Regions from separate parts of the Homo sapiens genome. Here all the other regions are linked to region 3. Evidence: fine-mapped QTL for protein levels in blood plasma. A gene starts in region 3. Each other region holds a variant in brackets. All regions are shown on one strand. Distances are from middle to middle.

Region 1 (8,185 bases), 9.0 kb before region 3:
CTACAATCAATAACTCCACAATTATTGTCTCTACTATTAATTCATCCCCATTATCAATTTTCCATTGCATTTCTTTTTTTTTTTTTTTTTTGAGACAGGGTGTCACTCTGTTGATCCCCAGGCTGGAATGCAGTGGCTCAGTCACAGCTCACTGCAGCCTCAACCTCCAAGGCTCAGGTGATCCTCCCACCTCAGCCTCCCAAGTAGCTAGGACAACAGGTACACACCACCATGCCCAGCTAATTTTTGTATTTTTTGTAGAGACAGGGTTTTGCCATGTTGTCCAGACAGGTCTCAAACTTCAAAGCAGAAATCCTTCTGCTCCAGCCTCCCAAAGTGCTGGGATTACAGGCATAAGCCACTATGCCCAGCCAGTTGTTTTTTTTTTTTTTTTTTTTTTTTTTTGAGATGGAGTCTTGATCTGTCACTCAGGCTGGAGTGCAGTGGTGCCATCTCGGCTCACTGCAAGCTCCGCCTCCCAGGTTCACGCCATTCTCCTGCCTCAGCCTCCCGAGTAGCTGGGACTACAGGCGCCCGCCACCTCGCCCGACTAATTTTTTGTATTTTTAGTAGAGACAGGGTTTCACCGTGTTAGCCAGGATGGTCTCAAACTCCTGACCTCGTGATCCGCCCGCCTCGGCCTCCCAAAGGGCTGGGATTACAGGCGTGAGCCACCGCTCCCGGCCATGCCCAGCCAATTTCTTATTGGGATTCTTTTTTTTAACAGAGAAAGTCAAAGAAACAAGTTTCATGTACTTATTTCTCATGGGACTGGGCAGCTGGTGTAGTAACGTATATGAAAATATTAGCTTTTGCTTTTATTTTGAGGTACCTTAGGAAAACCTCATGTATGCAAGAGGAGTATTTTTTAAAAAGATGGGTTATCACAAGTTATAGGGAATGTACCTAAGGACACAATTATCCCAGAAATGTAGTGTAGGGAGAGTACTGTCTTTAGATACTGTTCTAGCCCTAAGCTTCCTGGGAGTCAAAGCAGGTATGAAATGTGGCAAGAAGGTCATACTTCAAAAATATTTAAGATTTTCTGGCCTAGGTGAATCACAGATTTTTAGCCTTGGGAAGTGTCTTAGATCAAGTCTAAATCTGCCACTTACAGAAAAGGAAACTGGAACTCAAAGAGGCAAAATGACTTGCTCAGTACTAGGCATCTGGTTAGCAGCAGAGCCGGGTAATGCAGTGTCCCTAACCCTGGTCAATGCTCTTTTTTCTACACTGCCAGACTCTGAGTATCAGGTTTGTTAAGAAAGCTTGTCCAGCAAAAAAAATCAGGAATATGGCCTCAGAGTCAAGGCCAACCAAGGGCCATGGCTATGGAATACCCAAAAAGCAAACCCAAGTCATCCTAGCACCGACAGAGATCTTGAATCCCCAAATTCACAAACCTAATACCAGATAAGAAAGTTATATTGAGGCTATAAGGCTTCCTTCCTCCTCTTCTCTTTCTTACAATTCCATTTGTCCCTATATCCATTGATTCTGAACTGCAAAGATATCCCACTAAGCAGCTTATTTTAATCTCCCATTAAAGTAATCTCTTTCTGATGAGAAGTTCCTGCTCTTAGAACAGGAGCACCCTGTAAATGAGTTCATTCTTTCCGAGACACTTGAAGCTAAAGGCTCATAGCATACTGAACTACAGTCTTTGGTAAAAAGTGAAATAGTAGAAGAGATCAATTTATCCAGGTATTGAATCACTGGACACATCCAAACAATATTAAAATAATCCTTTTTTCTATCTACTTCAAAAAATAACACTACTGTTTTTTGTTTGTTTGTTTGTTTTGAGACGGAGTCTTGCTCTGTCGCCCAGGCTGGAGTGCAGTGGCACAATTTCGGCTCACTGCAACCTCCGCCTCCCGGGCTCAAGTGATTCTTCTGCCTCAGCCTCCCGAGTAGCTGGGATTACAGGCACGCACCATCACGACTAGCTAATTTTTGTATTTTTTTAGTAGAGATGGAGTTTCACCATATTGGCCAGGCTGGTCTCTAACTCCTGACCTCATGATCCGCCCGCCTCGGCCTCCCAAAGTGCTGGGATTACAGGTGTGCACCACTGCGCCCAGCCACACTACTGTAATATTTTAAAGAACAATCTGTTACAGCGTACAGTATGAGATGCCCAGTCAGTGGCAATACATCCATGGTGGGTTCCAGGGGCTGGCCTGCGAGATCCTAATGGACCGATGCAATGACATAAGATCATCCACAGAAACAACCAGTTGTGTCTCAGTTTTTTGTAAGTTTGGGCAGATCACAATTCCTTCAAAGTAATGAAAGGCAATCATGCAAAAATGAATTATATGCTTTTTCTATCATTGTCTTTCTAACGTAAAGATAAGCAAACTCTAGAAAAAGTACTAATCCAGGTCCCGGCATTTCAGGTGAGACATGTTTTACATTCACACTAGTGATTTATGTTACAAAATGAGAAGGAATCTTACTTTGTTAAAAGACGTGGTCATGTTTATTGGTTTAGAGTAGCCAATTCCTGGGATAAAAGCACCTAGGAAGTTACATTACCTTTTTAAGGCCACTGAAAATTAGTAAATTCTTGATTTCATTTATCAGATGGCATAGGGGTGGGTGAGACAAATTAATGCCCAAGTCACACCAGGGATAACTGAGGCACAGTTAAATCAGGACCATAATTTTCCAGGCTTCTTTGCTGGCGTCAGGTATATAAGATCTCATGTGGCAAGAGAACAGAATATAAACACATAGCCCATTCATAGCCCACAGTGAGGCAAAAATAGAAAACAAAAAGAGGCTAGGCGTGGTGGCTCACGCCTGTAATCCCAGCACTTTGGGAGGCCGAGGCAGGTGGATCACCTGAGGTCAGGAGTTTGAGACCAGCCTGACCAACATGGTAAAATCCCGTCTCTACTAAAAATACAAAAATTAGCCAGGTGTGGTGGTGGGCACCTGCAATCCCAGCTACTCGGGAGGCTGAGGCAGGAGAATCACTTGAATCCAGGAGGTGGAGGTTGCAGTGAGCTGAGATCACACCACTGCACTCCAACCTGGACGTCAGAGCGAGGATCTGTCTCAAAAAAAAAAAAAAAAAAAAAAAAAAAGCAAAAAGAAAGCAAAAAGAGGAAGAAAAGCTGTGATATGTGTCCATCCCAGAGCATGTCTTCTGTTACTGTTAATCAGAGTGTGTGTCACACTTCCTGGGGCCACTGAAGTCACTAACCCCGGCAGAAAGGATCGGAATTTTCCTACTCTAAAAGGAGAAATGGCAAAATATAGAAGCTAGGCTGGTGGGAAATAGAGAAGAGGGCTATTTCTCTATAAACATGTTATCGAAAAAAACAATGCCTTGGCGGGGCACGGAGGCTCATGCCTGTAGGCCCAGCACTTTGGGAGGCTGAGGCGGGTGGATCATTTGATATCAGGAGTTCAAGATCAGCCTGACCAACATGATAAAACCCTGTTTCTACTATAAATAGAAAAAAATTAGCCAAGCATGGTGGCACACACCTGTAATCCCAGCTACTCGGGAGGCTAAGGCAGGAGAATCGTTTGAACCTGGAGGCAGAGGTTGCAGTCCACTGAGATCGCACCATTGCGATCCAGCCTGGGTGACAGAGGGAGACTCCGACTCAAAAAAAAAAAAAAAAAAACCCTTTTTTAACAAAAATGTGAAGTTCGCGTGATGATAAAATGGAAGTAACATGCAAGCAGGAGAGTGGGCAGTCTTGTTCCTCACACCAACAGCAAACTAAGTCTCTGCCTCCCAGCCCCAACTACTTTCTAGGCTGGAACTCTGTCCTGTGTCTTCCAAGGCACAGAAAATTCTAGAAAGAAGGCCTTTGCCCTAGTACAGAAG[A/G]AAAGGGACAGTGTCCTCTTCCTCTCCTGATAGTCCAGGAGAGCTGTCCTGCCCCTATCCCACCCCAGAAATAGGCTGCTCTAAACCCATAAATATGACCAGGTCTCTTAACATAGTGAGATCCCCGCTCATTTTGGAATATAAACTTACACCTAGGACCTGGATTAGCAACTTTTCTAGGGCTTGCTTATCTTTAGAAGAAATCCTTACCTTCGGAAATGGCTTTTTTCACAGCTGCCACGTAGGTCTCTGGCTCATCGTCACAGGTGAGCTCCTGCCAATGGGCCCAATCTGGAAAGAAGTCTAGGAACTCCTCGCTGTCCCGCACGCCGCAGAGCAGCCTGACCACGCGGTGCGGAGGATGGAAAGCTCTCTGCAGCAGGGGCAGCAAGGCGGGCTTGTGGAAGTGCTGCACCAGCTCCGCGGACAGCAGCACCACGACACAGCGGGTGCTGAGGAAAAGGCTTAGGTCCTCTGCCGAGAAGGAGGCCTCGGGGCCCAGCCTGTGAGTCAGTATCTTCTGGCTGCGGACCTGCCGACTGGACAGGAACAGGGTCTGCAGGTACTGGCACCATTCCTCGGCATCCGGGCTGTAGACGATGAGGATGTCGCATCCTCTGGGCACCCCTGGACAAGAATGAGGCACAGAAGCATGTTAGCACACCTCCCCTTCTAGGTGGCTCCCCACAGCCTGCAAAGGTAGAGCATCCAGACACTGGGTCTGGCACCCACAATCTTTCGTGGTGTGCCTCCAGCACACCAGCACACCTCACTCACGCATTTCTTTCCCCATTTACAGTCTGTGTTCCAATCATACCAGACTCCTTATCTTTGCCCAAACATACCACGCTGTTTTATTATTTATTTATTTATTTATTTATTTAGAGACTGAGTCTCGCTCTATCACCCAGGCTGGAGTCAGTGGCCCAATCTCAGCTCACTGCAACCTCTGCCTCCCGGGTTCAAGCGATTCTCCTGCCTCAGCCTCCCAAGTAACTGGGATTACAGATGCCTGCCATCACGCCAAGCTAATTTTTGTAGTTTTAGTAGAGATGGGGTTTCACTATGTTGGCCAGGCTAGTCTTGAACTTCTGACCTCAAGTGATCCACCCATCCCTGCCTCCCAAAGTGCTGGGATTACAGGCGTGAGCCACCAGGCCCAACCCCATACTGTTTTAGATCCTTGCACGAGCTATTGCTTCTGCCTGGCATGCACCTTCCCCCCACACCTGAAGCAGTATGAGATCATAACAATAATAACAATAATAATAAATAATAATAATCGCAACAGCAAACACTTATATAGAGGTTACTATGTTCCAGGCACTCTTCCAAGCACATTGCCTACTAAACTCATTACATCTTCACAGCAACTTTAGAAGGTAGGTACTATTATTAGCCCATTCTTTAAAAAAATGAGAAACCTGAGGTGTGACAGGTTAAGTAATTTGCACAAGATTCACAGTGGCCAAGTAAGGATTTGAGTTAAATTAGATATTTCATGTAAACTGCTAAGCACAGTGCTTGTCATATAGAAAACCCTCAGGAATTGGTAGCTGGTGTCATCATCCTCACATGAATATAAATAATGTATCATATTAAAGTGCATGGTAGTTGTGAATTAATGCTGTTACCTCCACAATACAATCTGCAAGGTGTCCCTCACCACACCTGGCCTATAACATAGGCTTTCTTCCTCTAACAAAGCACAAATGCCAAAAAGAGAGTCAAAAAGGGCTTTTAGGGATCACTTGGCCCAAACTCCTCATTTACAGATGAAAGAAACATTTCATCTAGGAAGGTTAAGGGACTTGCTCAACTTCATACTCTAGATTATTGGCAGAGCCAGAACTGACACTCAGGTTATTCCCTGGTTCCCAGTCCAGCCTCCTTCCCAACTCACCTGCACCACCCATCAGGAACTATGTCAAGAATCTTACGAGTAGTAAGTCATAGCTTCCAACTACCAAAGTTCAAAAAAGCTTGGCTCTTAATGTAACTGTTACCACTGTTTTGGGTCATCATCTCTCCATGAATTCAACAAACTGTTCTGTGTGTGGTTTGGAAGAGGTGAGTATAAAGTGTCCATACAACACAACAGGGAACTCAGAGAAGGAAGCTGGTCACATTTTATGAAGGTTGGGAACCACCTAAGTTGTAGACTAAAACAATTAAACGCTAGGCCTGGGCCGCATTTCATTGATGCTTCCTGTTGAAAAGGACAGAGGCAGGACTTAGGCAAGACCTAGAGGCTCTGAAAAGATCATAGGATGAATCCTCTTGCCTGCCCCCATCCAATCCACCACTATATTCAAACCAAAAAGCAACATGTACAATGCAAGCCCAACATAGTTCTGATTTCCCCCAGGATGAGATTACCAAATTTTTTTTTTTTTTTTTTTTTTTTTTTTTTAGACGGAGTCTCGCTCTGTCGCCCAGGCTGGAGCGCAGTGGCACGATCTCGGTTCACTGCAAGCTCCGCCTCCCGGGTTCACGCCATTCTCCTGTCTCAGCCTCCCAAGTAGCTGGGACTACAGGCGCCCGCCATCACGCCCGGCTAATTTTTTTTTTTTATTTTTAGTAGAGACGGGGTTTCACCGTGTTAGCCAGGATGGTCTCGATCTCCTGACCTCGTGATCCACCCACCTCAGCCTCCCAAAGTGCTGGAATTACAGGCGTGAGCCACCGCACCCGGCCATATTACCAAATTTTTAAAAATAGCAAATAAAACGAATGTTTGCAGTTTCATTCTGTTTTGAGTCCCCCTGGTTTTCTGGAGCCCTAATCCAGTGCTAATATAAAGCCCACAGTAGACTTCTTAGCAGGAGCAAGTTGATCCGCCTGAGAGTATTTTTGAAGGGAAGGTGTACAAATCTTTTAAAAAGGCAATCTTAGACAAACAGTATGGAACTGGCGAAAACCAGTCCGCAATTCTGACGATGCCCTGGACATTTGTGGTTCTACAGAGAACTCAATTCTGATCACGGTCTGTTCCCTCAATTGTGAACATAATGGTCCTTTTCAGGAATGCCTACCCTGATTCCAAAGCTTACACAGATTAAGGACAAAAAGTTAATGCACCAGTGCTGCAGCCTGCCATAAAAATAAATAAATAAATAAAAATCTTTGCTGCTTGGATTTTTTTTTTCTGTGTAGAATATTTCTTTATACCTCAATGGAAAAATCATTTCAAAACTATAGAAGGTATAACATTGGCAAAGCTACATAACTATGCAACTGACATTGAGAAGCAGAGTTAAATTATCAGAATATATTTACCTTCTTTCTGTCCTTCCTTCCTATGTGGCTGGTTTATCTTAAGAGGCAAACGTTCTTCTAAGTGTCAAGTGTTATTGCAGATGTGCGTGCATGGGCACGAGCCATCAGGTAGGACAGGTGCAAGACTTTACATTTCATTATAACATTAAGGATGCAATGTTAGTGATGCTGTGCAAGGAGCCTGGAGCATTTTGTAAAAATGCAAAAGTGAAAAAGGGTAGCCACCACCTTCCTCTGCATACATATGCGTATCATGTCAACAATTTGTGCAATAAGCAGAAGGAGAATAAAATCTCAGGAAGGGATGGTTGTGGTCCCATATACTAGTGATGAAGAAACCATAAGTAGTGTTTTCAATAGGGTTGGCAAGTGATGGCAAAAAAGTGAAGAAGAGGGAAGAAGAAAATTTCCTAAGCATAAGAAGAACCCTTAAGAGGGCAGCTTGGGGCCAGGCCCAGTGGCTCATTACTAATCCCATCACTTTGGGAGGCCAGGGCGGGCGGATTGCTTGAGCTCAGGAGTTTCAGACCAGCTTGGGCAACATGGTGAAACCCCGTCTCTACAAACAATGCAAAAATTAGGCCAGGCGCGGTGGGTCACACCTGTAATCCCAGCACTTTGGTAGGCCGAGGCAGGCAGATCACGAGGTCAGGAGATCAAAACCATCCTGGCTAACACGGTGAAACCCCGTCTCTATTAAAAATACAAAAAAAAAAAAATTAGCCGGGTGTTGTGGCAGGCACCTGTAGTCCCAGCTACTCAGGAGGCTGAGGCAGGAGAATGGCATGGACCTGGGAGGCGGAGCTTGCAGTGAGCCGAGATTGCGCCACTGCACTCCAGCCTGGGAGACAGACCGAGACTCCGTCTTAAAAAAAAAAAAAAAAAAAAAAAAGCAAAAATTAGCCAGGCGTGGTGGTGTGCTCCTATAGTCCCAGCTACTCAGGAGACTGAGGTAGGAGGATTGCTTGAGACTGAGAGGCAGCTTGGGTTTTGGGGCACTGATTGACTTAGTAGAAAAGCAACAGCTTTACACTGTTCTAAAGACCACATGGCCAT
Region 2 (8,185 bases), 73 kb before region 3:
AAATCTTGGAGCCTTAGTTTTCTTTCCTGTGAAATGGAGATCATCCTATTCACTAAACCCTGGGATGGTCAGATGAGATCACGGGGATACAGGCAGTCCATGGACTTTTAAAGGGCTGCCAGATGTTCCAAGTTATTATTCTGCTGGGCGGTGCTGCAAATACGCATTTTAGATTTAGCAGTTTGTCCTTTATCCTACTTCTTTATGAATTAAGCTGCCTTGTCACCTACAGAGCCACTGTTAGTAAAATAAATTATTCCTCCCCAGGTCCAAGTTGCTGCTGCTTCTGAGCCAGGAGGTAAGCGATCATTCTCAAGGTTAAACTTGACGCCACAGAGACAGAAACACAAACCAAACCATGTCTAGAGTTAGAAAATTCAGAGTTCACATAACTGGGGAAATGAAAAATGTGGGCCGGGCATGGTGCCTCACGCCTGTAATCCCGGCACTTTGGGAGGCCAAAGCAGACGGATTGCTTGAGCTCACAAGTTCAAGACCAGCCTGGGTAACATCACAAAATCCCATCTATATGAAAAATACAAAAAATTAACTGGGCATGGTGGTTCACACCTGTAGTCCCAGTAACTCGGGAGGCTTAGGTAGGAGGATGGCTTGAGCTGGGGAGGCAGTGGTTACAGGGAGCTGAGATTGTGCCACTGCACTCCAGCCTGAGCAATAGAGCCAGATGTTGTCTCAAAAAAAAAAAAAAAAAACAGAAAGAAAGAAAGAAAAAAAGAGAAAGAAAGAAAGAAAGAAAGGTAGAAAGAAAGAAAAAAAGGAAGGAAAAGAAAAGAAAAAGAAAAGAAAGAAAAATGTGGTGGGTTTCCTTTTCCCATGCAAAAAGTAGCCAAATTTGACAGGCTGCCTCCCCGCTGGTAGCCTCCTTCCAGCTACACGGCATCCAGAAGCCCCCTGGCCCGGGTGACTTCACAAGTTGCCAGTTGGCTACAAACCAGGCTAGCTCCAGAGCACACTGCTGCCTTGGGAAGCCCTGGTAAACCTCACTGATCCTGCTGTGAGGGGCCCAGCAGACCAGGAATAATGGAAGAGACACCTGTGGCATTCCCTGCAGGTTTCCAGTGCTGTGGTGGGAGCATGGCATGTGTTAGAACATCCAGGGGGACAGCAAGTGTAAGGCTCTGTCAACACTAAACTGCCAATAAAGTAGGGCATTCTTTAATTGTCCAGTAGTTTCATAGCAAAGACACAGGGCAGAAAGGATGATGCAGTCTCCAGATTCAAGTGGGTACTGGTGGTTCTCCAAGTGTTCTTTTGTGAGTGAGTCCCTATTCCACAATGGAAAGGACTGGGTCCTACCCACTTCCCCGCCTGTATCTCCAACACCCAGAAGACATCAGTAACCGAAATGTACTAGATGCTCCAGACATGCTTATTAGGTATATGGATAGGATGATGGGCAAGGCTAGGGGGCGCCAGAGGCTGCTTTGTTATCCAATATCTGGAGCTGCAGATAGGGGAAGAAAGGCTATAGAGGCTAGATGGTTTTTCCAAAAGGAACCACGACTAAAATGCATGGTGTTGGATAACAATTTCTGCAGAATATGGTCCTAATGACAGAGAAATCTGGATTCAAATCTGGGCTCTATCACTGATTGGCTGTGACACTTTGGGAATGTTCAGCCCCTCTGTGCCTCTGTTTCCCCATTTGTAAAGTGCAGGTAAGAAAAGCATCTTAGTGGGGTAGCTTTCGGACTTCAGGTCCGAAATCAAGGGTGTGGATGGTAGCGATGGTGCTTTCTCTCCCCACATCCATGCCAAGGCACAGCTCATTCTGGAAGAGCTTCCACCAGCACTTCTAAGCCTCCCAGTTAGGTGACGGAGAGGAGCTTTTATTGCTCTTTCCCCTAAAGGAGCACCCAATCTGAATGGCAAACACCTAACAACCTCTGGACCACATCTTGCAGGTTCTGGGGTCAGTGTCAAAGGCCTGCTGGCATCAGAGACTGCCTCTGGCCCTCTGACCAACCTATGCCTTCTCTCCAAGGCATCCTGTTGGTGCCTGCTCTTCCATGAGTTCATGGATGGGAAAGTCAGGCCCGCCTCCCTGTGGGCCCAGGGCCCTACTGTCTTCTTTTCAGGCTGAAGGCTTGTAACACTCAATATAGCCCATTCCAGAAATTCCCCCATCCATAATGCTGATACCTTGGTTGATACTTCTCTTCCTTGAATCTATTAATGAAAACCAGAGGGAAGGAGGGCTAAGTCTCCGGTGGTGCCTCCGCATGCTTAGCATTTGGTAGCGAATGATGGTAACACATGAATAAGCCTCTTAGAGGGCCTGCTGTGTGGGTCTCCTGCTTCAACTCCAGTACGTGCGTGGAGATCAGATCCACTGTTACCCAGATCAGCGGTTCTCAAGGGTGGTGGCACTGCCCCCTGGGGGCGTTTGGAAAATCTATGAGGGTATTTTGGGTGGTCACCAAGGAGATGGCATTTAGGAAAAGGGGGAAGGACCCTAGACATCCTGCTATGTGTGGGACAGCCCTGCCCAATGAAGAGATGTTTCATGTCCCTCGTGACTTTCAAATATTTCCCTAGACATACACATAAGTTTTAAAAAGTACGTATGATACATATTTATACCTATGTGTATATTTCTACATATCTGTGTATATGTACAAGTATGTCTGTATTTTTAAATTTAATGTCAGCAGATATAAGCAAAAATATAGACAAATATACCTCATTTTATTACTAATTATTACCAATGCCATATTGGCTGGGAGTCACAAGTCACAGAACTTCTCTCAACTCAGTTAAAGATTCCTATTTTGTTTTGAGTTTAGGTGTTGGAGGGGAACTTCTACTGCTCATTCACTTTTGTCAAAAGGCATTACTTTTGCATTGGAAAAAACAAGATAATAAAAAGTGGGCAAAGTTTGTTAGACAGTTTATAAGAAAAATCATGATCCTGAAGAATGATATTTTGAAAATAAGCTTACTATATATTAATGCAATAAAATCAAATTACCCCTCGCCCCCCAAAAAATCTGCTTATTATTTTCTGAGCCTAGAACCTAAACTGTTTCACATATAAACACATCTTATTTTTGCAAACACTTAATTTTTTAGAAATTCAATTTCTATGAAAATGGAAAGGAAATCATAAAGAGTTGTTCACCATCTAGGAAAATCCAGGTGCCAATGCCAACATTATTCCCATCATTTGAGCCACCAAGACTGCAAACGTGTCAGTCAATGTTTGAAGCCGTTGACCGTGATTCTGAGTGTGTCTGCATCTGACTCTTTTGTCATGACTTCTGGTGCAGGCATGTTTGAGTATGTCCTCTTCTTTAATTTCTCTTTCCTATTTCAATTAGGGCAGTATATTTGATTTCTGAGAATTTTATATGTAGGTAGGTTATATAATACATAAACCTCATGTCAGAGTAGGAAAATGTTTGTTATAAAAAGGACCCCTGGAGACTGAGGGCTGAGAGCCACTGATTTGGCCTCTCAGATCACGAGGCAATGAGTTCATCAATTCTGACTTCCAGATATTTGCTTAAACTCTCCCAGCAGTCATAACAGAGGAAGTTTGGAGAAGAATTCTGCTTGTCACAGCACATGACTCCAGCCCTAGCTTTGTGTAAAACAGGACCTTCATCTCTCTGGGGTGAAGTGAGGGTACATAGGGACTGCCCCGCGCCATCTTCATCCGGAATGAAAAAAGCTGTTTCTCAGCAGAAAGGTGGAAGCAGAACTGGGTTGTGCTACTTACAGAGGTCTTCAGTGGCAGCTGGGACAAAGGCAGCCATGGACTCATAGAGATCCTCGTCACAGCCGGGGTTGAGCGAGCATTTCATAAGCAGGTCTGTGGAAAGGTGGGCCATGGACTCGTACACAGCATCAGCCTCCTCCCCGTGCATCAGTTCCTCTTTAATGTGACTCTTGAGCATGTCCACCGTTTCCTGAAAGAGAAGATGAGGCCCACGGCGCCCTGAGGCAGCCTGACTTTCCGGGTGGAACTTGGCCCCCGAAGGCACTTGTGGCCAGCAAAGTAAAGGCTCCCATGAGTCAGGATTACAACTGGTTGTGTGTATTTGTATTTTCCCACCTGACTGAACGCTCCTTGAGGCCAGGCTTCCCACCTTTTTTAGTTTATTTCACGTTTTTGTTTTAATCTTCGTATCTTCCTACAACACTAAGCACAGAGTTAGGCACTCAGGAAATACTCGTTAAATGTCCACTGACCAGAGGATACAAATTAAAAATTACTTTCCCATGGCCTGATGTGGTGGCTCACACCTGTAATCCCAGGACTTTAGGAGGCCAAGGCAAGTGGATCACCTGAGGTCAGGAGTTCGAGACCAGCCTGGCCAAAATGGCAAAACCTCATCTCTACTAAAAATACAAAAATTAGCCGGGCATGGTGGAGCACGCTTGGAATCCCAGCTACTCGGGAGGCCGAGGCATGAGAATTGCTTGAATCCAGGAGGTGGAGGTTGCAGTGAGCCAAGATCGCACCAGTGCACTACAGCCTGGGCAACAGAGCAAGACTCTGTCTAAAAAAAAAAAAAATACTTTCCCGTGAGCACCTTTTAAATGTCAGGTACAATGCTAGGTATTTGCCTATACCCTATCTCCTGTAATCCATTCCACTACTGCTTGAGAAAGGTATAATATTCTCTAGTTTACAGATGAGAAAAACAAAGCTCACAAAAATCTAGTATCTTACTCAAGGG[C/T]TTGCAATCCTGATTTCTGATACTTCTTCTACACCCTAGTGGTTCCTCCAAAGGGAAAAAAATGACACAAGAAGGTGTGACCTTTACTGACTAGCCACGCAGAAATTCAAATGAGCTGAACAGGAATGCAGCTAAGGTGTTCTCGCCCTGTGTGTAGTCAGAGGTCACTCCGCAGCTTGGCACACTAGCCCCTGTTCCTTCAGCAGTCTCCTCCAAACTGTCAGGAACCCTGACAGTTTCCAGGGGTTCCAGCCTCGATTTTATGTCCTATGTGCCCAAAAGGAGAGATGATCTTGGATAAAGTGTCCTGACATCAGAAAGGTTCTCCCCTGCCTCCCACTGCCATCCTGCCTCCATGTGATTGTGAAGCCAGAGAGGTGACTTCCCTGAAACCTCTGCACAACTTTTCCTGGTAAGAAACTTTGGTGTTTCACAATCCTTATTTCAGCATCAACCCACAAAAATCCTCATTTTCACCACCACTACCCTAAGATAGCTAATCTTTTATTGACACTTCGTTAGTTTCCTCACGAGACCCAATAAAACAGATGACAGCTGTGAAATGTTGGAGATTCCAGATCTCACCTTTGGTTTTGATGTGGTGAAAAAAGGAAATGGGACAGTTCTAAGAGGCCATAAGCAACACAAAGGGACAGTCTTTTGGTCACAATGCTGAAGCTGCATCGGTTGAAGGTGACCACAGGGAGAAAGCAAAGATGGTATGACCTAGATTGACTTCGGCACAAAATGAAAGTGCATCTTTAAACATCCCAGTTAAATACAACAGGATAACAAGCCCGGGCTTCAGTATCAAACTAGGTGCAAATCCTGTCTCTGCCCTGAATAGTCTGTGGCCCTAAGCACAGTGACTTTGCCTTTCTAAGCCGTTTTCCTCTTTTGTAAAGTAAGGCTTGCAATACTGTCAACTTCAAAGGATTGTGGTGGGGATTAAATGAGATAATACATTTTCAAATCAAATACATTCAATAAATACTAGTTACTACTATGAACACAGTAGGTTATTAATAAAAACTATTGGCATGGAAATGAAATGCTACATTTGGTACATTTGTGACTTTAAGAAAAAACTGAGTAAATACACCCAGACTGAGAGCACCTTTTAGACTTATTTGTGTCAGTGACGCCCAAAAAAAAGGACTCACACCATTTTATTCAAAACACTTATACACCTGTAAACACTGGGAAGTCCCCTCTGTGCCTCCGTGAATCACTGTCTTGTAGATTTTCCAACACAGAGCAGAGAGTTAAGTTTCTGGGGAGATATCAGGCTCTGTCCTGTCTGGAGGTCGAGAGCAAGACCGGGCTGTGTTTATTGCTCCCTGTGAGGTCACAGCCCCATGCGAGAGGCTGAGCTATTCTCAGGTACCCTCTGGGAGTCTGTGAAGAAGGAGGAAAACCACGAGGGACTGGGATCAGGAAGAGCAGCTGCTTCCTAGGCATCAGAGGCAATATTGGGGCATGGAATAAGATGTAGACGTGGGGTGCGATCAGCCTCAAAGAAGGACCCAGAAGTCAATGTTTGAGGAGGAGCTGAGGGCCCCAAACCAGATGATCAGATAAACTGGGCATACCTGCCTGTCTTAACATGGGACCCAGGCAGGGGGTTAGAAAGAGAGAGCGAGGCTGTCAGCAGGAGGTGGGCCTTAGAGTTGCTGCCCTGATGCCTTTCCAGGTGCACAGCTTTATTGAGGTTTCTGCTGAAGAAGAAACCAAGCCTAATACAGTTCACCGGGGCCTGAAGGCGGGTGAGGCAGCTAGGAGCATCCCACCATGGTGCCCTGGAGGCAGGTGAGGAGGTGGGGGGAGATGATCAGCCTCTACCTTCAGCAGATTCACTCTATAAAGGTTTCTGTAAATTCTGTGAGGGTGAACCTCAGTGCTTAATAGAAATGATTTCCTTTTACCTTCAAAAGAACTCTATGACTCAAACTATGATTATCTTCCTTCTGCATATTAGGAAACTGAGAGAGGATACGTGACTTACCCAACGTCACAAGGCTAACAAGTGTTGGTACAGGAATTTGGACCCAGGTCCATGTGACTCCAGACCTCATTTCTTAAGCCCACACATACTGCCCATGGCCAGAAGAGGTACATGAGGACATGCTAGAGATAAAATCTGTTCGTATTTTGGGTGAAAGGGCAGCCATACTACCACAGAGTGCATTTCCAATCCTGGGCCCCTCCTGCCTTGACCTTACCACATACTCGTCGATGAACTGCCGCAGGTCCCTGAAGCCGTGTTTCTCAGCGATGGTGTTGGGGTAGTGGCCATGCTTGTTGGCCACGCTGTACGCCTGCAGGGCTCCTGGGCAGGTGAGCAACAAGGCAGTGAGGTTCTTCAGTCCATACTTCGCAGCAAAATGCAACAGGGTGGGCAGCTCTTCATCCCTCTGATCTGAAAATTATCAAGGAAAACTTAATAGGCAGATAAAAATAAAGGCACAGGGTGCCCTTGTTCATGGAGATGAAGCTGCCAAGACTAGCATGGCAACAGAAAGCACTCAGCCATTACTTATTGATTGACTGACCTAACATCTAACAGCTTCCTTCAGGACACCACTGAAGATCATGTCCTCAGATGCAGAGGACATAATTTTTTTTGTTGAGATGGAGTCTCACTCTGTCACCCAGGCTGGAGTGCAGTGGCGCGATCTTGGCTCACTGCAACCTCTGCCTCCCAGTTTCAAGTGATTCTCTCGCCTCAGCCTCTCAAATAGCTAGGATTACAGCTGTGCATCACGCCCAGCTAATTTTTGTATTTTGAGTAGAGATGGGGCTTCACCATGTTATCCAGGCTGGTCTCATACTCCTGACCTCAAGTGATCCACCTGCCTCGGCCTCCCAAAGTGCTGGGATTACAGGCATGAGCCACCATACCCGGCCATAACATTTTAATTAATTAGCAAATCTAATAATGAATACCCTACCATCTTCTCTAACAGGACTGGAGAATCCTGAGAAAAAGTACCAGTTCAAAATGTGCCGGGTTTGTTTAAAGGCTTAACTAGCAGCCACACAGTACAATAGGAATCATGTTTTGAACTTCTCTGCAAAGTTCAGAGCATGTATTTCTTAAAGCTATTGTTTCGTGCTGATTAAAAGAAAGCAGTTCATCCTCTTAGCCCTTATTCCTAATTTCATGATAAGTACACCAAGTAATCCTGGGTATGTTCCTTAGACTTTCCGCTGCCTTTAGTTCTCAACCAGAAAATACTTCCAGACTATCTCAAAAGGACCTGGGAGGATAAGTAAGATAGTATTCAGCAGGGTTCCTATTTAGGAGAGATTTTGAATGTTGGTCTTAATGCACACAAGCCCCACCAGGACGTCAGTTCACTCTCTAATTGGTGAAAAGCAAAGTACTCCAGAGAGGTGCTGGGTCCCCACGGACCCCCTCCACCTACTGACATCTGAATACAGCAAGTTAAACTCAACCAAGAAAATGGACATGTTTG
Region 3 (6,751 bases):
CCATCAAAAACAAGGAAAATCAGAGAAAATCACAGCCTTGAAGGGCCTAGGGAGACATGACTACCAAATATAACGTAGTACCTGAGATGGGCTCCTGGAACAGAAGAAGGACATTACATAAAAACTAAGGAAATCTGAGGAAAGCCTGAACTTTTAGTTATTAATAATTTATCAGTATCAGTTAACTAATTGTCACAAAAACCACACTAATGTAAGATGTCAATAATAGGTGAAACTGGATGTGGTCTATATGAGAACTCTCTGTACTATCTTTGTAGTATTTCTGGAAATCTAAAATTGTTCTAAAATAAAATTTTATTTAAAAGTATCATTGAGGCTGGGCGCGGTGGCTCATGCCTGTAATCCTAGCACTCTGGGAGGCCAAGGCGGGTGGATCACGAGGTCAGGAGATCGAGACCATCCTGGCTAACATGGTGAAAACCCGTCTCTACTAAAAATACAAAAAATTAGCCGGGAATTGTGGCGGGCACCTGTAGTCCCAGCTACTCAGGAGGCTGAGGCAGGAGAATGGCATGAACCCGGGAGGCGGAGCTTGCAGTGAGCTGAGATCATGCCACTGCACTCCAGCCTGGGCAACAGAGCGAGACTCCATTTCAAAGAAAAAAAAAAAAAAGTACAATTGAAATAAAGAGCACTTAAATCTCCTATATTTAAAAAACAAACAAATAAACAAACAGAACAGCTATTCAAAATGTCTCATTCCTGGCCAGGAACAGTGGCTCACATCTGTAATACCAGCACTTTGGGAGGCCAATGCAGGCGGATCACTTGACGCCAGGAGTTCGAGGCCAGCCTGGCCAACATAGTGAAACTCCAACTCTACAAAAAAATACAAAAATTAGCCAGGCGTGGTGGCATGCGCCTGTAGTCCCAGCTACTCAGGAGGCTGAGCCATGAGAATTGTTTGAACCTGGGAGGCAGAGGTTGCAGTGAGCCCAGGTCGTACCACTGCCCTCCAGCCTGGATGACAGAGTGAGACCCTGTCTCATTAAATAAATAAATAAATAAATAAATAAATGCACAATGTCTCACTCCTGGGGTTCTAGTGTTAAATTCAATTCCCTTTGAGTGAAAGTATTTGAGGAGAAATTAATTACTGCCTCAGACTAGTTAACATTACAACCTATTTGGTCACTAACCTGTGGTGTGACTTAGACCAATTACTAAGTCTAGGCAAATTTGCCTTGATGTAAATGAGGACAATGAAATCTATCACCTTCCCGAATATTGCTGTGCTGGGAAACTGAAAGAAGGGGAAGTTTTTAAAAAGTCCAAAGTGAAAGTTCCAGTCCCTTTCTGATGTGCTGGGTAACAATATAGGACTAAATGCTTTGTCAGCAACTCTGCCTTATATGGGGGAAACTCCTTTCTTCAGCAATAATCCTCTTCCTTTAACCATAAGTAGCTTTTCCACTTATCCTCAATCACATCTCTCTTTTTTTTTGCTTGTTCATTTATTAAGAGAAATGAAACACATGAGCTAACAAGGAGTCTACAAGCCCTAGAAAGAAATGAGGAAGGGTCTTTCTTTGTCCTCGTAAAACGTCAAGAACAGGTTTGGCTACAGAAGGAGAAAGAAATGGATCACAGCAGAGGAAGGGGAGGCTGTAGCAGCAGGGAGTCCATGGGGTGAAAAGCTGGGGCTGAAAGAGAGGTGCCTTTGCAGGATTCAGAGCCCAATGGAGGGCCGAGCGTGGTGGCTCACACCTGTAATCCCAGCACTTTGGGAGGCTAAGGAGGGCAGATCACTTGAGGCCAGGAGTTCAAGACCAGCCTGGCATGGTGAAACCCTGTCTCTACTAAAAATACAAAAATTAGCTGAGTATGGTGGTGGGCACCTGTAATCCCAGCTACTCGGGAGGCTGAGGCACGAGAATCACTTCAACCTGGGAGGCAGAGTTTGCAGTGAGCCAAGATCGTGTCACTGCACTCCAGCCTGGGTGACAGAGTGAGACTCCGTCTCAAAAAAAAAAAAAAAAAAACTCACTGGAGAGAAGTACAGACAGGAAGTGCCAGAAAGCTTCTCAAACCACCCAGCCCAGACCATTTCTTCAGCCTATAGGTGACTCTGGCACCCCATTCATCCATCCTGGAGCCCCATGTTTGAATCTGAACACCATATTTGAAGAGGGATGAGAGATAGGGAAGGTGACCAGGATAAGGAGAGATGTGGTCAATCATATCAGGAGCTTCCCACCCCAGAAGTTGTTCAAATTTAGGTACTGGCAAGAGTATTGAGAGGCCTCAAGGATCACATGGAAGTTAAGGTCACAAAAAGGTTAAAAGTCCCTTCAAGCTCCATGGTCCTGTAAGTCCAGGAATAGTAGAAGGATCTAAAGAGAAGAGCCTTGGAGAGAGGGGGCAAGAGACGGTATGAGAGCTGATACACAGAGGAGAGAGTACTAGTCTTTCTTCACCCAGCCACAGACTTGGCCACTTGGGAAAGTCACTCACGGATCCTCTCTTTCCTCTCTCTCACGTGTAAATACACAAGATGCCATCAGGGGCCTAGAGAATTTTGTGGAATAGGCCAAGTCCATTTCATTTTATCTTCCTACCCAAGGTCCTTTCAAAGACAGGGAGCCTAACTTCTCCTGGATTTCAACAAGCAGACATCTTTCAGAAAACAATATAGACTAATGCTTCCCCTTCAGTGGAAGGGAATTTAAGAATTAGGCCATAAAAAGGAACGAAGTACTGATATAAGCTACAGTGGGATGAACTTTGAAAATATTATGCTGTACAAAGGAAGCCAGTCACCAAAGACCACATACTATGTGATTCCATTCATATACAAGCCCAGAGTAGAGAAATCTATAGAGGCAAAGTAGATCTTAGGGCTGGGAGAGGAGAGGAGAATAAAAGGTTGATACCTAAAGCATACAAGGTTTCTTTCTGAGGTGATGAAAATGTCCCAAAATTGACTGTGGTGATGGCTACACATATCTGTAAAGATACTAAAAACCACTGAATTGTATGCTTTAAATGGATGAATTGTATGGCATGTGAATTATATCACAATAAAGCTGCTTTTAAAAGAAAAGAAGAACATACAGAAGGGTGGCTGGATGACTCCAAAGCCCACAGCACCTTGGCGAGCGGCATTGCTCTCACCACTGTGATCTTCCCCCATGGGTCCTTGTACTTCCAAACCTCAGGGAACCCGAGGGACTCCAGAGACCCAACTCTCAATTACAGCACCTGGAGTGGTGTCTCGCCACAGAAGACGCAGACAGCAAGACAGTTTGACAGCTCTAACCATTACAAACACCTGCAGAAGCTGCTACAGAGCCCATAAATAGCCCCAGGTTTGCCCACCGGACTAGGGTCCCCCTCTGAACTGGAGCTCGCCTTCCTAGCTCCTTCGGCTGTGTCCACTGGAGAGAGGTACACAGGACGCTGGAAAAGAGGAAAAGAGAGGCCATTTTCTCAGACTCTTCCACCCAAAGGCCCTCCCAGTTTGCGGTTTCCTGGACTCAGCAGCCCAGGGCCTGTTCCTGACCATGGAAGGAGGAGGCGGCTTCACTGGTTTATTATCTGGCCTCATCTCCCTCTCCCCCACAGCCCACCTACTCCAGCCACTCTGGCCTACTCCCTTTCCTTTAACGCACCACATACACTCATTGCTTGGAGCACTCTTCCCCAAAGAGCCTCCTCCCCCTGGAAATCTTGGCTCAAATGTGCCTTTCTCCACCCTGGCCACCTCATTTGAAAATCCTAACCCCAGTCTCCCTCACCCTTCTTTATCGTTTTCCCATAACACATGTCATACCAGAGATTTTCCTTATTAAGTGTATATTACCTGCTATTACTAGGCCTCCTTATTCACAACACAGCTTCTTTTAGCCTCCAGAGCCCAGCTGGAGAGCCAGGAGGCTGTGATTAACTACCTTCCCATCCCCTTTAATGAGCCTGTAGTACATGGAACAATCACTCCTGGCCTTTTCTACCTCTGCTTCCGAAGCACCCTTACCAGACCCTCAGAGGATCTGGGGAGAGCTGGCTCTTCATTCCAGTGTTTGCTCACCTCCTGTAAGAACAGTGCCTTCTCCTGGCCACCTAGATTTTCTTTTTCAAGGGGCACCTGCAACCTGTTTTCACAGGTTATCCCTACTAAAACATCATAAAGTGGGCTGGGAAAATACAAGTAAACCCATTTGTAAACACTGTAACTCTACCTCCTCTCATCTAGTAATTCCTTGTTTACTTATTGCTTTCCTCTACAGGACCATAAACTCCTGGAGAGCAGAGACTAGGTGTTTCCTGCCCACCATGGAGAACATATTAGGTGCACAGTATCCATTGGAGTGCAATAGTAAGGACTCATTAATTGTCTCCGTTATCATCATTATGTGGCTTGTCCTGGATCTCCGTCAGTGAGCGACTTGCCAAGTGTGTACACCCATGAACCAGAAGGCAACCCAAGACCAGCCAGAAAAGACGCTTGGCACCCTTTGATGAGTACATTTACCCAGTGACCGCCAACTCTCCCCATTCCCCAAAGTTCTGCAAAGGACGCAGGAAAAGTAAAGTTCAAGGAATAGTGTTCCTAGATCCCTAGCAAAGTTCTAGACCCAAAACACAAAGCCTGGGAGGGGTGGAGGAACGGGGCTTGGGGAACTGTCCCAAGGGCCTCCCCGGCTGATCTCTCCGCACCACCTAGGACTGCCTGAGCGCCCCCTGTGGGTCCACGGAGCCCAGGAGACGCGTTTGGCCCTGTAGACCATCCACATCGCCCGCCCTCCGCTTCTCTCAACTCGCCTCTCGCTTCAGAGTCGGAGGGACAGGGGAAGCGACGCTCAGACACTCCTAGGGCCAGAGGTGGAGGGAGCGAAGGAGACCCTGAAGAAGTGGGAGGGGGTCGGGCCAGGCAGGGGCTGAAGAGAATCGCGCCACAGGCTGGGACGGGAAACGTGGGAAAGTTGGAGTGGGAAGTTTGCGACAGGGAACATAGAAAAGAGCAGAAAGAGGGCAAGATCCCCGCACAGAGGACGCAAACAGAAGCAAGCGGGGGAGCGCGCCTCAAGGGATGCGGGGTACGAGAGAGGGGCCGGGAGCCCGGGGACCCGCGGCGCCTGCCTACCCACCTGAGGCTGCCATGCCGCGGGGCGCCGCTCACATCCCTGGCTCGCTGCGTGCCCGGGGCCGGGACCGGGGCCGGCGGCGTCCTGGCTCGGGCTGGAGGGGCGCCGGGCTCCGCGCGGGACCGGCCGCCGCTCTGGCGCTTCCTCCCTCAGGGCAGCCCGGCCTCGCCACGAGGGCGTGTCCACAGAGTCCGCCCCGCCTGCGGGACTCGGCCCGCGGCACCTGCACCCGCGGCCGTTGGGGAGGGGAAGTGAGAACCCCATGCCGGCCGCCGGCCAGCTCCCCCCACGGCCCCCTGCTCAGGGGCAGCGAGAAGGCGGGGGCTTCGCGCCACGTGCGCCCCACTCCTCGGGAAACCAGCCCTGATCTGCCACCAAAGGGCAGCCCGAGGTGGAGGGGGTGTGGGGAGGAGGCGGAGGGGGAGAGTGTGGGGCTGCCAGGCCTCTGGGAGACAGGGCGGGGGTGTGTGTGTGTGTGAGCACCAGCTGTCCAAGCCACCTCCTCATCGCCTGGGGCTTTGTCCCTAAGCCCCTGCTGCCCCAGCAGGAAAGGGGAGGGGACAGGAAGGGGAAGAGGAGGAGGGCTGGGCACCTGGCCCTGGGTGCTCGGCGTTGCCCTTGAGTGCCCTCCTGTGATCTTTCTGCCGTTCCTTGGATCTGGTCTCCTGATGGCACATGAACATTAATTATAATGTCACATGATAAATGTCTAATAGAGTTTCTCTGCCATTCATTTCCTGTGTTCCTGTCTGCTGGGCGCTGCGTTTAGCACCTTACACACATTATCGCATTGCATCCTCACAGCAACCTTCTGAGGTAGCACCTATCACTGTCTTTACATTGGAGCCAAAGAAACAAGCCAAATACCTTGCTCAGGCTTCCACAGAGAACAAAAGCTCCCGGAGGTTCAGTACCAAGCCAGTCTGCTTCCAGAGCTAGAACTCTTGCTTAACCCTTGCCTTCACCTGCCCTCTTCTTGGACTCCTCCCTTTGCCTGCTGCCGAAATTCAACTGAATAGCACATCCCCTTGGAGTTCTCAACAATCCAGGGGCCAGAAGATGGACCCAGAGAGCAGAGATGAGGCAAGGTTAGGGCTGAAGTCCAGGTGGAAATAAAATGAAATGGATTTAAGAACGGGAATATCAGGATGAGGCCGTGCATTCATTTTCTTCTGTTGCCATAATAAATTACTACAAATTTAGTGGCTTAAAACAACACCAACTTATCATTTTACAGTTCTGTAGCTCAGAAGTGTGACATGAGTCTCCATCGGCTAAAATCAAGGTGGTGGCTGGGCTGGGTTTCTTTCTGCCAAATAGAAGGGAATCAATTTCCTTGGCTCTTTCAGCTTCTAGAAGCCATCCACATTCCTTGGCTCATGGCCTCCTTGTTCTATCTTCAAAGCCAGATGGCCCTGCTTCTGTCATCATATCCCTTTCTCTGACTCTCTTCTGTCTCCCTCTTCCAGTTTTAAGGATCCTAGTGGCCGGGCGCGGTGGCTCACGCCTGTAATCCCAGCACTTTGGGAGGCCGAGGCGGGCGGATCACGAGGTCAGGAGATCGAGACCATCCCAGCTAAAACGGTGAAACCCCGTCGCTACTAAAAATACAAAAAATTAGCCGGGCGTAGTGGCGGGCGCCTGTA

Direction of the effects. Positions count from the first base shown, and alleles are read on the strand shown. Strength reflects both the effect of a copy and how common the allele is.
As copies of G replace A in region 1, the plasma level of the protein whose gene starts at base 5,241 in region 3 goes down (moderate association).
For the plasma level of the protein whose gene starts at base 5,241 in region 3, allele C in region 2 goes with a higher level than allele T (weak association).

What was found. A credible set is the group of variants that fine-mapping cannot tell apart. PIP is the posterior inclusion probability: the model's chance that the variant is causal. Protein levels are from antibody-based Olink assays in UK Biobank. Linkage for the fine-mapping came from a reference panel and not from the study's own genotypes, which makes the PIPs less certain.
Region 1: its variant is the best candidate, but not a certain one, in a credible set for the plasma level of the PIK3AP1 protein (UK Biobank, PIP 0.54).
Region 2: its variant is the best candidate, but not a certain one, in a credible set for the plasma level of the PIK3AP1 protein (UK Biobank, PIP 0.69).

What each region holds. Positions count from the first base shown.
Region 1 is chr10:96,705,507-96,713,691 of GRCh38, forward strand. It overlaps PIK3AP1 (phosphoinositide-3-kinase adaptor protein 1), which reads right to left. Exons shown (of 17, transcript NM_152309.3): 2 at 4,061-4,477. Among named protein-coding and RNA genes, the nearest start is that of PIK3AP1, 11 kb to the right of the region's middle. The variant A/G (reference allele first, on the strand shown) is at 3,851.
Region 2 is chr10:96,641,731-96,649,915 of GRCh38, forward strand. PIK3AP1 (phosphoinositide-3-kinase adaptor protein 1) reads right to left here. Exons shown (of 17, transcript NM_152309.3): 7 at 6,929-7,125; 8 at 3,743-3,932. Among named protein-coding and RNA genes, the nearest start is that of TM9SF3, 59 kb to the left of the region's middle. RefSeq lists an enhancer at 3,742-3,811. The variant C/T (reference allele first, on the strand shown) is at 4,707.
Region 3 is chr10:96,715,274-96,722,024 of GRCh38, forward strand. It overlaps PIK3AP1 (phosphoinositide-3-kinase adaptor protein 1), which reads right to left and starts at 5,241. Exons shown (of 17, transcript NM_152309.3): 1 at 5,109-5,241. The coding sequence starts at 5,121. RefSeq lists enhancers at 4,763-4,872, 5,723-5,832 and silencers at 5,003-5,252, 5,303-5,602.